Homo sapiens: one gene and its partner. The protein of the gene in region 1 purifies or fractionates together with the protein of each later gene. This does not show direct contact. Each region holds a gene or a part of one and is shown on either strand. Other genes may lie near its edges. The genes, in order: FAM83D and CSNK1A1.

The links.
Region 2: the proteins of FAM83D (region 1) and CSNK1A1 purify together in Homo sapiens (affinity purification with mass spectrometry; 9 studies listed by BioGRID and IntAct, with this or other methods). This does not show direct contact.

What each region holds. Positions count from the first base shown.
Region 1 is NC_000020.11:38,943,232-38,950,513, forward strand, and holds part of FAM83D (protein FAM83D), read left to right. Parts: intron 1-4,644; coding exon 4,645-4,769; intron 4,770-7,282.
Region 2 is NC_000005.10:149,506,376-149,513,657, reverse strand, and holds part of CSNK1A1 (casein kinase I isoform alpha), read left to right. Parts: intron 1-448; coding exon 449-588; intron 589-1,785; coding exon 1,786-1,864; intron 1,865-3,704; coding exon 3,705-3,779; intron 3,780-6,524; coding exon 6,525-6,631; intron 6,632-7,282.

The DNA of each region.
Region 1 (7,282 bases):
CCAGGCTGGTCTTGAACTCCTACCTCAGATGATCTGCCTGCCTCGGCCTCCCAAAGTGCTGGGATTACAGGCATGAGGCCCCATGCCCAGCCTGCTCTGTGCTTTTAACAAATGTTATGTAACTGAATCCTCAAAGCAGCCCCTATCAGGTAAGTGGCACCTGTGTTTTAGACCAGGAAATAGTGACACAGAGAATCCAAGTGTCCACCACTTCAAAGTAGTGGGCCTAGGGTCTGCCTCCTTGTATGTCTGCCTCCAACCCCAGTGTCTGTAATCACTATTACATGCTGCTGCTGTTCATTTCTCATTATTGTAAAATTAGATTTTATGTCTATTTCTCTGATTCTGAAAATGACCTAAGTGTTTCAGTGGAAGCCTATACAACATAGCTAGCTTGGTCACTTTCATGGAAAGAAGAAAGAAAAATTGTCATATTTATTACAGAATTTGTTTTTTTGTTGTTGTTGTGTTTTTTTGAGATGGAATTTTGCTCTTGTTGCCCAGGCTGGAGTGCAGTGGCACGATCTCAGCTCACTGCAACTTCTGCCTCCCGGGTTCAAGCGATTCTTCTGCCTCAGCCTCCTGAGTAGCTGGGATTACAGGTGCCCACCACCACACCCGACTAATTTTTTGTATTTTTAATAGAGACAGGGTTTCACCATGTTGGTCAGGCTGGTCTCAAACTCCTGACCTCAACTGATCCACCCGCCTCGGCCTCCCAAATTGCTGGGATTACAGGCATAAGCCACCATATCCGGCCCAGAATTTGTTTTTTAAAAATTAAGCAACCCATGGCTTCTCAGCCTTTTGGCTAAGATCAAGTGTAAAAATTAAGCATCTTAACCTGTGAGCTTCAGAACTTTATTTGTTCATCACCTGTATGAGTATCTATTATGCACTGGGTACTAGATATAAAGCAGTCAGCAAAACGAATTTAGTCTTTGGTACTATAAGTTACTGCCTAAGAGACTCTAACTTACCACCTTATTATTACCAAGCAATTTGGTTTACAGAATTCAGATTCTCCCACAGAGTTCTTGTTGGTTGCCTCATGATAAAGACAGGATTGGGGTTTCTAGACCAATTGAGATGAGACAGCCATGTAACCCAACAGGTGGTTAGAAAATGAGTCCAGGTGGACCCAAGGAAGATACACTTTGGCATGGAAAAGAGCATTATCAGCTAGCCAGGTAAAGAAATGGAAGGTATCAGTGTTTAATTTCAAGGTACTCTTTCTATAATTAAGGCTATGCATTAGCAGAGAAATCACAGAATTGTTCTGGCCACAACTTTGGTCAAGTGATTTTCTCTATTTATCTACTAGACAGAAATCTATGAGCAGGCACCGGTTCAGTTGCCTACTGTTGGTTGTTGCCTTCATAGGTGTCCAGATCCTCTGCAGGGGGGTTTAAGAAGGCCTATTTCTGGCCGGGCGCGGTGGCTTACGCCTGTAATCCCAGCACTTTGGGAGGCCGAGGCGGGTGGATCACGAGGTCAGGAGATCGAGACCACCCTGGCTAACACGGTGAAACCGCGTCTCTACTAAAAATATAAAAAATTAGCCAGGCCTGGTGGCACACGCCTGTAGTCCCAGCTACTTGGGAGGCTGAGGAAGGAGAATCGCTTGAACCCGGGAGGCAGAGGTTGCAGTGAGCCGAGATCGCGCCACTGCACTCCAGCCTGGGCAACAGAGAGAGACTCTGTCTCAAAAAAAAAAAAAAAGGCCTATTTCTCTGGCCTCCCCAGTTTTTGTAGTTTTACCTCCTTCCTGGGGAAGCACTGTCTTCCCTGGTTGCTTGTGTCTCCTGTTCCTCTCTGTGCTAGTGAATTTGTGCCCCTTGCTGTATGGGGGCTGATGTCCCCATGCTCTGCCTCTGTAGCTGGTTCAGAATGTTGGGTTGTGCTGTCTGTAGGAACTTGGTCACACATTGATGTGCAGGCGCTCACAAGTGCTTTGGCCACGATCACAGAGGCATATGCAACATTCAGATGTGTGTCAAAGGGAAAGATACAGAAAACCACACCTAATCTGCCCATAATGGTATTCTTATGCTTATTATATGTTGATCCTTTAAGACTTGGCTCAGGGGTCATCACCTCCTCCAGGAAGCTCTCCTCCCACCAAGTCCAGGTGTACCTCTATGACATTCCCTAGTCGTTTTTCTTTTTTTAATTTTTATTTTGAAATAATTTAAGATTTATAAAGAAGTTACAAAAATAATATAAGAAATTCCTGAATACTCTTCACCCAAGTTCTCCACATGTTAACATCTTACAAACCTCAGTACAAATAACAAAATCAGGAAATAAACTTGATATCAATACTATCTAATTTACAGACTTATACATTTCCCGGTCGTTCCACTAATGCCCTTTTTTATGGTCCAGGATCCAATCCAGTCCAGGATCACACCTTACATTTAGTTGTCAAGTCTCCTTCATGTGATTTAATCTGGAACAGTTTCTCCATCTTTCTTTGTCTTTTAGGGTCTTGACCTGCCCCCACCCCCCCCCCACCACCCCACCCCCCGTTTTTTTTTTTAAGAGATAAGGTCTCGCTATGTTGCCTAGGCTGGTCTTGAACTCCTGGACTCAATTGATCCTCTTGCATCAACCAGCCTCCCAAGTAGCTGGAACGACAGACATTTGGCACTGCGCCCGGCTGGATCTTGACACCTTTAAAGAATACTAGCTAGCTGGGTGCAGTGGCTCACGCCTGTAATCCCAGCACTTTGGGAGGTTGAGGTGGGCAGATCACCTGAGGTCAGGAGTTTGAGACCAGCTTGGCCAATATGGCGAAACCCCGTCTCTACTAAAAATACAAAACAATTAACCAGGCATGATGGCAGGTGCCTGTAGTCTTAGCTACTCGGGAGGCTGAGGCAGGAGAATTGCTTGAACCTGGGAGATGGAGGTTGCAGTGAGCCGAGATTGTGCTACTGCACTCCAGAGTGAGACTCCACCTCAAAAAAAAAAAAAAAAAAAAAAACAATTTTTTGTAGAATTTGGGTTTGTCTGATGTTTTATCAAAGTTAAATTCAGATTACGCATTTGGTAAGAAGACCACAGAAGTAGCATTATGTCTTGCCATAGTTTTGTGTTTTATTTTTAGCTTATTTTGAATATTGATAGATTAACAGAAGTTGCAAAGATTGTACAGAAAAGTTTCATGTACCCTTCACCCAGTTTCCCCAAATGTTACATCTTATGTAACTTATGGTACAATGTCAAAACCTGGAAATTGACATTGTATACAGCTTTGTGCCATGTTATCGTCATGCATGCATATCCAGACAGAAGTTTCCATCACCACAAAGATCTCCCTCCTCCTGCTCCTTTATATAGTCACATCACTCCCCTCACTTTAACCCCTAGCAACCACTAATTTGTTCTCTATTTCTATAATTTTGTCGTTTACAGTCTATTTTGTAAATGGAATTATACAGTATGTGACCTTTCAAGATTTGCTTTTTTTCTCTCATCACAGTGCTTTTGAAATCCATCCAAGATGTGCACGTATCAACAGTTTGTTCCTTTTCATTGCTGAGTATTGTATGGTATCTTATACCATTCAGCCACTGAAGGACATTTGGATATTTCCAGTTTTTGTCTGTTATGAATAAAGTTGCTGTGAACATGTGTAGAGGTTTTGTGTGGATATAGGTTTTCATTTCTCTGGATGCTGTTATGTGTTACTGTAGTTTCTAAATCAATTAGTTTTCTCTCTCTTATTCTAGTCCTTGAAGGTAAGGAGCATGCCTTACATCTCTGTTGTCTCACGGCTTGGCACATAGTAGGGGCTCTCTATGTTTATGGAATCAATGAGTCAAACAAAAATCTTACACGTTTAATTTAAATGTGTAAGATTTCTAACGATATAGAGCCACTGGTCTGCTCCAGAGAATGCAGATTGTTGTAGTATTTTGTATGCCATTGTTTATACATTTATGTGTGTCATTTTACAGGAATAATTATGCATACATGTGCAGTATATTGCCCCAGCATACCACTACCAGTGTACGTTTTTGGTAATTATGTATTTGTAGGAGATGTGACATTGCTTGTTAAGCCACATGTGATATGAGTGTTTCTGCCTCAGCAGGCCTGTACTAGAGAAGGCCTGTCCTGTGTTCCTATTCTCCATACCCATTATGGTGTTGAGGGTGAGTGAGGATGGACTGTTACTCTAATGTGATGCCATTAAACAAACAAGTTGGAGGAAGATCAGCTTACCTTCTTTCAGACTTTGCTAAAATGTTCTTTATTACTAGCATGTTTTCTTTGATGATTTTATCCCACACATTTTGCTTCAGAATCATTTCTTGGATTCTGTTGTTTAGTATCCCAAAAAGGTTGAGTGTTCTTTTAGAACACATACACGCATGAACTAAGGGTCTCAAAAGTAAATATAAGAAAAGAACAGATGAGAAGATGGACCAAATGTAGAAGTAACATCACTTGAGGCTTGAGAACTGTCTGGCTAGTGTACCATGTATACTGTCACTAAATGGTGACCCTAAGCCACGCATATGCCAATAATTATATCTGGGAATTGTAAACTAAGGCTTTTTGTCCTAACCATTTGCTCAGCAGATGAGTATTGCTGAATTGTTCATTTATATTTCTCCCACTCCCTGCCAACAGTTAATGACAGTTCGGACTATCACAGGAAATATCTACTATGCAAGGTCAGGAACTAAGATTATTGGGAAGGTTCACGAAAAGTTCACGTTGATTGATGGCATCCGCGTGGCAACAGGCTCCTACAGGTAAGTCTCTAACCCGTCCAAGGCTTATTAATCTAAACTCTTCAGAAGAAGCATGTCATGTAAAGGTAAAAGCCTTTTCCTCTCAATGGGAGCCTGTATGGCCATGCATTCTGATATGCGTGCATCTGTGTATAGCAGCTGGTTATCAAAGCCTCCTGTTAGAGGCAGTTTGGGTGGGGGTCACTTCCCCTGTCCTGTAGTCCATAGATTAAAATGCAGAAGTTGAACTTGTATTGAGACAACACAGTCAGCAAGTCCTAGATTTCAAGCCTTGGCCCAGGTCTGCAGGGGACGAACTGGGGGTTAACAGCAACACACAGTCTGGAATCCTGGTTCCTTAGGGATCTGGACCCAGCTTGCCCTGCTCACTTGAAGGTAGGGGCAGTTGCAGGCATCTCCATTAGTGTTGAAGGCAGAGCCAGAGCTGTCAGCTTTAGACTCAAATCCTCCACGTTGCTTCAAGCCTTGTAATTTAGAGCTTTAGTCTAGAAAATACTGATTATGTTTCTGACCCACCTTTGAAGTGTCACATTGGCAATGGCATCTTAAGGTAGAGAGCAGGAAGGTTGAAGAGAGGGTGGGGATAATGAGCGGTTTACATGAATCTCTAGAATTTGTGCCATTTGTACATATGTGGCTCCAATGGTTGTATGTTCTGCCGCCTCTGCGGTAGATTGTCTGATGGTTTGCATGAGGTGTGTCTGTAGAATTTTAAAAAGAAAACCCCATTTTTGAAGAAACACACAACCCTGAGTGATAATTACGTGTCAGCCCTGGGTAAAGGTAGAAATGTGAAGGCTTGTGGAAAATGAGGCAGTAAGATCAAGAAAATCTTGACACCTTTCTTTTTCAACAGTACCCTCATTGCTCAGAACAAAATTTGAACTTTCTTCACCAAAGAGGCTGTGGGAAAAAACAAATTGAACTCTTTTTCTTGGAATTTCCTTTTGTAAGAAGTTTATTAAAAAAATTTGTTTTTAACCTAAGTAGGATTTATCTATATTAACCAAACTTAGCTACAAATGGACTTTTGCTGTTCTAAAATATAAAAACTACCCTCTCCAAATGAAATTGATGACGATGATAGCTTCCATTTGTTGAGGAGGTTTTATAATCTTGGTGTTGGATAGGTGCTTTATTTACATTATCTCATTGAAGGCTTTCTTTTTTTTTTTTTTCGTGATGGAGTCTTGCTCTGTTGCTCAGGCTGGAGTGCAGTGGCGCCATCTTAGCTCATTTCAACTTCTGCCTCTCAGATTCAAGCGATTCCTGTGCCTCAGCCTCCCGAGTAGCTGGGACTACAGGCATGCCACCATGACTGGCTAATTTTTGTATTTTTAGTAGAGATGGTGTTTCGCCACGTTGGCCAGGATGGTCTCAGACTCCTGACCTCAGGTGATCCGCTGGCCTCGGCCTACCAAAGTGCTGGGGTTACAGGTGTGAGCCACTGCGCCCGGCCCAGCCTCATTGAAGGCTTTCAAAAGAATCTTCCTTCTCAGGCTTTGAAGGCAGTTTTCAGGGGGACTTTGCATTAGCCATATCTTGGTTACAGGAGACAGAGTTGACTGTGTTCTATGATCTCTGTTTGAAACCTACTTCTGGTACAAATACCACCATTAGTGGGGTGATGGCAAGTGTCAGCTAACTCTCAAACGTACTGACTCGAAGAACCCGGAAGGAAGCATAGAAAGGTACAGTTGGTTTTCAGTTCATCTTGACGTAGGAGCCACACGCTGATCAGAACACTATATCCTGGTTCTGATGTTTTCGAGTTGACTTTTGTTCTTAGGCAGGCTCTCCCTTTGAAGTCAACGATCCTGGCTTTGTTTATTTTTTGTTTTTGAGACAAAGAGTCTTGCCCAGGCCGGAATGCAGTGGACGATCTCGGCTCACTGCCAAGTTCCGCCTCCTGCGTTTACGTCATTCTCCTGCCTCAGCCTCCCGAGTAGCTGGGACTACAGGCGCCCGCCACCACGCCCAGCTAACTTTTTTTTGTATTTTTAGTAGAGATGGGGTTTCACTATGTTAGCCGGGATGGTCTCAATCTCCTGACCTTGTGATCCGGCCACCTTGGCCTCCCAAAGTGCTGGGATGATAGGCATGAGCCACCGTGCCCAGCCAGATCCTGGCTTTCTTATATGGCCTTTAGTAGCTGTCTCCCAAAGGGTGAAACTCTTTCACTCAGAATTACTATCAATCCCTTCTGTCAGAATCCATTTGATAAAGAAAAAAGAAATCTCTGAAAACTTACTTGGCTCTGGTGGGATCACATGCCCACCCTGAATGAATCCCTGCATCCAAGGGAATAGGATACTCTGGCCAGTGTGGACCACATGCCTGCCCCTATTGTGGTTGGAGAGAGTATGATAATGAAAGCTTTCTGGGGTACAGGTGGGTGTGAGTTCTGCTAGCAGAGGAGGGAGGCGGGGAAGGGACACCGTACAGGCAAGGGCACATGGCCACTAATCAGCTCTAAAATGTTTTGAGCCATGGTGTTTTGTGAAAATGGCAGC
Region 2 (7,282 bases), on another chromosome or scaffold:
AAAGTGCTGGGATTATAGGCGTGAGCTACCGCGCTCGGCCATTATATCTAGATTTTGAAACCTCATGTTTGTTTACCAGTAGTAACAGGTGTACAGACTATCAGGTGTCATTATGACAGATAGCACACTTGTTGCTTCTGCTGTCAAGCATGTATACATTTCTTTCTTTATAAAGACAGGTTCCTGAGTATGTAATGAAATGGGCCTGTGAAATCTGCAAACGACAAGGATAAACTACTAGACTTTTTTTTTTTAACTTGATTTATTGATGAAGACTAGTAAAAGCTTATGGGGGGGTGTTAAGTCTGTTCATTATCTGTTCTATTAATACTTAGGATACTTTATTTTGATATATTTGAATGCATAGAATAGATACCATTTAATGAATAAGACGCAGTTTAATTGAACAAGGTTGGAAACCTAATGTTTCTGTATTTCTCTTTTAAAGTTATTCCTTATTGATTTTGGTTTGGCCAAAAAGTACAGAGACAACAGGACAAGGCAACACATACCATACAGAGAAGATAAAAACCTCACTGGCACTGCCCGATATGCTAGCATCAATGCACATCTTGGTATTGAGCAGAGGTAAGTTCGAAAATGGAATGTGCTTATCATAGCCATAGCAGAAGCCATCAATGGGTTTTTGAAATATTTTAGTTTCTTACAATGTCTAAGGATGTTTCTTGGCTGAGGATTTGAAGGATGCTTATTAATCATTTTACCTGCTGCTTTAACCAGTGTAGAGAAGACCGTTAAATGAGGTCTTCTGGATTTTTTGTTGTTGTTGAAGGTTGTCTCTTGGGGGGAAAATACTGCGTGATAGAAAGTTAGAAGCATAAGTGCAATGTTGACGTTTCTTTTTGCAGCTGAAGATAGTACATATATTTTTAGAGCTATTTGGGGCTTTTTATACTTTAGTAATTCACGCTGAGTTTGGGAAGAATGCATTATTTATTTTTAAAAGGAAAATGTTATCAGTGTCCTAATAAACCAAAAGTGGGTTGATGGACCATCTCCTGTTATACTTCACTCAAATATATAAATTAATAGGATCTAGTTTAAAGTAAAAAAAGTAACAGTCTCTGCTCTCTTCCTATTTCTTCACATGAGTTCTAGAGTTTCGAGTTCCTTTCATCTTTTACAGTCACTTTTTGCTCCTTAAAACTAGCATAGAAGTAATAAGTAGAAAAAACAATGATATGCCTCCAGGTTAAAGAACCTCATACCAAGAATTTCAGGCTTAAGAAATATCCATGAATATCTGAATGATCTAGGTTAAACTGTAATGTCACTTTTTCTGTACGCCAAGGCATTACCTATCCTTAAATATATATATATCTAAATATATATTTGTATGTATGTGTATATAGATATGTATGCATGAATACATTCATATAGATGTTCAATTAGTTTTAAGTTGTAACTCCTTTTCAGTACTTCTGAAGTTTTTTTTTAATGAGTTTCTGCAAAACATAGAAATGTCATCCTGCTTGGTTCATTAAGCTCATTTAGAGGGTTGTTTAGCCAAATCGTTTCTGTTCTTTTAAAATTAAATTGTAAGACAGTTGTTTGTCAGATTTTGGATTCCATGGAAAAAGTTTTGTTTAGAGGTAGGTAACACATGAACTTTTTAAAATCACCTTAAATAAGTAGCTTCTTGCGTAAGACACCAAATAGTGTTCCCTCCTCATTTGGGAACATTTCTTCTGGGTACTTGACTTTCTTTCATATGTTTTTTCATAATAATAGTTCCAGTTTATAAAATTACGTTCTCTTTTCTAGTCGCCGAGATGACATGGAATCATTAGGATATGTTTTGATGTATTTTAATAGAACCAGCCTGCCATGGCAAGGGCTAAAGGTAAACCAGACTCACATTATCAGATTTTTCTCTCTCTTTTTTAGAATAAAAATATATATTGGAGAAGATAAGATTTAAGGTCCCTTCTAAGTCTGAGATTTTTCTGAGATATAAAGAATTAACCTTAATTTACTTTTTACCTTTTATCTGGGAAAATGAAACCAGATCATTTTAGTAAGAACTTAGTTCAGCTGAAGAACAGTGTCCTCTAAGAGACAGTAAGCTGGTACCCACTGGTAGCCACTAGCTCTATCTAGATGGAAGTGGGCATGGACTAAGAAAGGTGGAGACTTTCTCATTTTGATGTGTTGCCATTATGTTGAAAATGTATGTTTTTATGTACAGCAAGACCTGTTTATCCAGCAATACATGTCCTAACATTTTGTTTCTATTAGCTAGGAGTTTACTGTTACTTTTGTGAGTGTATGTTAATGATAAATCACCGTATCCTAATTTTGGGTGGGGGTGGGGGCATGGGGAATGGTCTTGCTCTGTTGCCCAAGCCGGAATGCCTGGCTCACTGCAGCCTGAACCTCCTGGGCTCAAGCAGTCCTCCTATCTCAGCCTCCTACCTGTAGCTGGGACTACAGGAACATGCCACCATGCCCAGCTAATTTTTAAATTATTTTTTGTAGAGACAGTGCCTCACTGTGTTGCCCAGACTGGTCTCAAACTCTTGGGCTCAAGTGATTCTCCTGCTTCAGCATCCCAAAGAACTGGGATTACAGGTGTGAGTCACCACTGTTGGTGTGTCCTAAATTTTAATGGCTATTTTGGTACCTTACCAGTTCTTTGAAGGAATACCTGTATTTATTGAGTGGCTGTGAGCTAGTTGTAGTGCTCAGTCCTTGGGTGGGTAGCTTTATCTAATATGAGTATTTTTAGTTTAGAAAAATATTGTGACTTATACAGTTAACTCCATTTATTAATGTCACTAATTGATGAACAAATTTTTTTGTATTAATCTGATGCCTTTGCCCTTGTGTTGAACATGGGTTAAGAAAATGCTTTTCAGGCTGAGCATGGTGGCTCATGCCTATAATCTTCAACACTTTGGGAGGCCCAGCCAGGCGGATCACTTGAGCCCAGGAGTTCAAGACCAGCCTGGTCAGTATGGCAAGACCTCACCTCTACTTTAAAAAAAAAAAATAGCAGGGTGTAGTGTCACATGCCTGTAGCCCCAATTACTCAGGAGGCTGAGCCGGGAGGATTGCTTTGAGCCCAGGAGTTCGAGGCTACAGCGAGCTATAATCGAGCCACTGCACTCCAGCCTGGGCAACCGAGGGAGACCTTGTCTCAAAAAAACAAACAAACAAACAAAAAAACAAAGAAAAGGAAAAAGGAAAGAAAATGCTTTTCAGCTGGGTATGATGATGCACACCTGTAGTCCCAGCTACTTGATAGGCTGAATCAGGAGGATTGCTTGAGGCCAGGAGTTGGAGGCCACAGGGAATTACTGCTGAGCCTGTGAATGGCTACTGCACTCCAGCCTGGGCAACATAGTGAGACCCCATCTCCTTAAAAAAATATATAGAAAGAAAGAAAATGCTTTTCAATTTTGGCCCCAGCCATTTTTACTTAAATCTAATATCCATATATTCCTATTAGACTCACCCTTTCCCTATAGCTAAAATTAAATTCTTAGAGAAGAAACTTACATCAGAAGTTAACAGTTTGGGAAAAATTTTTTTTAGATGTATTATACTTTGATTTTTTAAATTCTGGGTTAAAATTTCTCTTGAATCTCACAGGTATATGTTTATATGTCTAGTGCGTTAAACTACCATGGTTCTTCTCAGTAGCACTGAGTATATCTTTTTTATTTTATTCTTTTCCACAGGCTGCAACAAAGAAACAAAAATATGAAAAGATTAGTGAAAAGAAGATGTCCACGCCTGTTGAAGTTTTATGTAAGGTAAGTATGCATGATGAATATTAAAAAAATATAAATGAAGCCAGGCACAATGGCTCACACCTGTAATCCCAGCACTTTGGGAGGCCAAGGCAGTAGGTCACATGAGCCCAGGAGTTCAAGACCAGCCTGGGCAACATAGGGAAACCCCATTTCTACCTTAATAGATAAATGATCCGGCTGGGCACAGTGGCTCAAGCCTGCAATCCCAGCACTTTAGAAGGCCGAGGTGGGCGGATCACTTGAGCCCAGAAGTTCCACAAGACCAGCCTGGGCAACATGGTGAAATACCTTATCTACCAAAAATACAAAAATTAGCTGGGTGCAGTGATACACGTCTGTGGTCCCAGCTACTCAGGAGCCTGAGGCAGGAGGATCACTTGAGCCCGGGAGGCTCCAATTGCAGTGGTGAATCTTGGCTGTCTTGCAAGGATCTGAGATTGTGCCACTGCACTCCAGCCTAGGTAACAGAGTAAGACTCTGTCTCAAATGAGTGAATGAATGAATGATCCAGGAAGAAAAAGGAACATTTTATTTGCCAGCTCTGGAACTTGTAACATTGAATTAGGTAGCTATTCACCATTTTAAATTTACATTTTTATTATTCTAAATATCTTTAACAAGGACTTTTAACATAGGGGTCTTTTTAAATAAGTGTTTTGCTAGGCACAGTGGCTCACAGTTGAGGAGCCACTTGGTAGGCTGAAGGAGGGTGGATCGCTTGAGCCCGGGAGTTCCAGACCAGTCTAGGCAACATGGTGAAACCCCATCGCTACAAAAAATGCAAAAATTAGCCTGGCATGGTGACGCATGCCTGTAATCTCAGCTTCTTGGGGATGCTGGGGCAGGATGCTTGAGCCCAGGAGGTCGAGGCTGCAGTGAGCCAAGATTGCACCACTGCAGTCCAGCTTGGGTGACAGAGTGAGACCCTGTCTCAACAACAACAAAAATAAGTAAAATAATAAAAAATAAGTTAAATAAACGTTTTAAGTAAGTAAAATAAGTGTTTTATGTTTCTGGTTTGTTAGGGCTCTCTAATCTGTTGAAAACTAGGGGTAAATAAACAGGGCAGGTAAACATTTTCAATAGAACCTCATTAATCTATAAGAAAAAGTAAGAAATATTCTCCTTACCCTAAACTAGTGCTGGAAAAGAAAGGTTATCAACAATTAGTACATTAAGGAACAGGGAAACATGCAGACAGATTGGAGCAATCCAAAATAGCAGCTGTCCAACAATACAGGAATACAGAAGACAGTTTGAATCACACTCATTTTTTCTGAAATTTTCAACTTCATAGAAAGGCAATTGAGTTTAGAATAGAGAGGTATTTGTGTCATGATGAATAACCATGATCTCATCCATAAAAAGAAGGCCATATGGTCTTTCAGACAAGAAAGAATTGTATACCTGAAATTAAGTACAAAGCAGTATACAAATAAATAGTTGAGGGAAGAAATCAGTGAGAGTTAAAATAGTAATTATAAAGTGGTGAGATTGTTTTCAGTCTCATTGTCATACTGTTTACCATTAACACGGGCCATAAATGTATATAAATGTTGAGTTTTAGAAAGATGTATAATATGTATTATTTTACATCTTTTAACATATGTATATGTTTCAAGTGGTCACCCAATTTATATCGGTGCAATCAATAAAAAATGTTGCAAGCATTTCCATTCTATCCTTCCTAACTCCAGGACATGAGAAATTTCTCATAAGGTTGTAGAAAGAGATTGTAACTTTAACTCTACAATCATAAGGTTGTAGAAAGAGACTGCCTCCTTTAACTTTACCACTCTCCACATTGGCATTTACTCTAGGAGAGGAGATATAGAGGTTTGTGCTCTTTTAATATTTTGTATTTCCACATTGCTGATTGGGGAAATCCTTTTGGTGACTGATACCTAGAGCCTTGAAAATGTTTATACATTGTTGAGAATCTTTCCTAAGGAGCTAAATGGAAAAATTCTATGCCCACAGATGTACTTAGCAGTATTATTAATAATAGAGAAAAATTAGAATACATCCAAATGTTCAATTATAAAGAACAAGTTAATGATGTATATACTAGGTAGAATATCATGCAACCATTTAGAAACTTCTGAAGGCTGGGCATGGTGGCTCACACCTGTAATCCCAGCACTGTGGGAGACCAAGGAGGCCAAGGGGGGCAGATCTCTTGAGCTCGGGAATTTGAGACCATCCTTGGCAATCTGACAAAACCCTGTCTCTACTAAAAAATACAAAAAATTAGCTGGGCGTGGTAGCTCGTGTCTGTAGTCCCAGCTACTCAGGAAGCTGAGGTTGGAGGATCGCTTGAAGCCTGGGAGGTGGAGGTTGCAGTAAGCTGAGATTACACTACTGCACTCCAGCCTGGGAGACAGATTGAGACCCTGTCTTTAAAAAAAAAAAAAGTTCACGAAGAGGCGCGACTTTGATAAAATGACAGGTTTTAACAAGTGGGCTATGTAAGTTATTTAAGAACATAGTACTGTATAGGAAAAGCACTATATGGGAAGAACATATGTATTTCTTCTACTAATATTGTACATAATAGGGTAGGTAGGGTCATGAAATTTTATTTAAATTTATGAGGAGACCAAGCCATCATTTTAGCTCTCATATCTTCCTATGAAATGGTAAAATATCCCGCCCAAAAATATCTTTTTGCTTATACTTAAATGCATTTATTTTTCTATCTTGAAATGTTTGTTTTTAACTTTGTTTTAACCCTTGAACCTATAGGGGTTTCCTGCAGAATTTGCGATGTACTTAAACTATTGTCGTGGGCTACGCTTTGAGGAAGCCCCAGATTACATGTATCTGAGGCAGCTATTCCGCATTCTTTTCAGGTCAGTTTTTAAGGTATTTTAAGATTATAAACTCTGTGAGGGAAATTGGTTAAATTTACCTAACAAATTCATTCTGATAAATACTAAAGTAAAGCAGATCTAGCTAACATGAATAAAAGGTTTCAGAAACTGATTTATTTGGGACTAATTTGGCATTTTTCTATTTGTAGTGTAAATAGGTGATTTTAGTTTGGAGTGGATAGAGAGTTGAATCATACTCAAAGTAGAATGTAACTTTTCCAGAATAGTTATAATTCATATTAGATATAAGTGGCTGTCAGTGCCTTCTGGAACTCTCCAACTTTGTACAGTACCAAATAAAAAGCAATTAAAATATCACATAGTCATGGAGTCTGATCAAGTGGTAGCAGTCCTAAACTAGGGTAGGGTTCCTTAGGCACAACCCAGAACTGGTCTTGAAAAAGGGGGGGGAATAGATTACATGTGGCTCAAACTCTTAGTTGGAAGAGAGTAAGAATTGAGGTAATCCGCCCAGGTACGGTGGCTCACGCCTGTAATCCCAGCACTTTGGGAGGCCGAGGCGGGCAGATCGCTTGAGGTCAGGAGTTAGAGACCAGCCTGCCCGACATGGTGAAGCCCCATCTTTACTAAAAATACAAAAATTAGCCGGGTGAGGTGGTGCTCACCTTT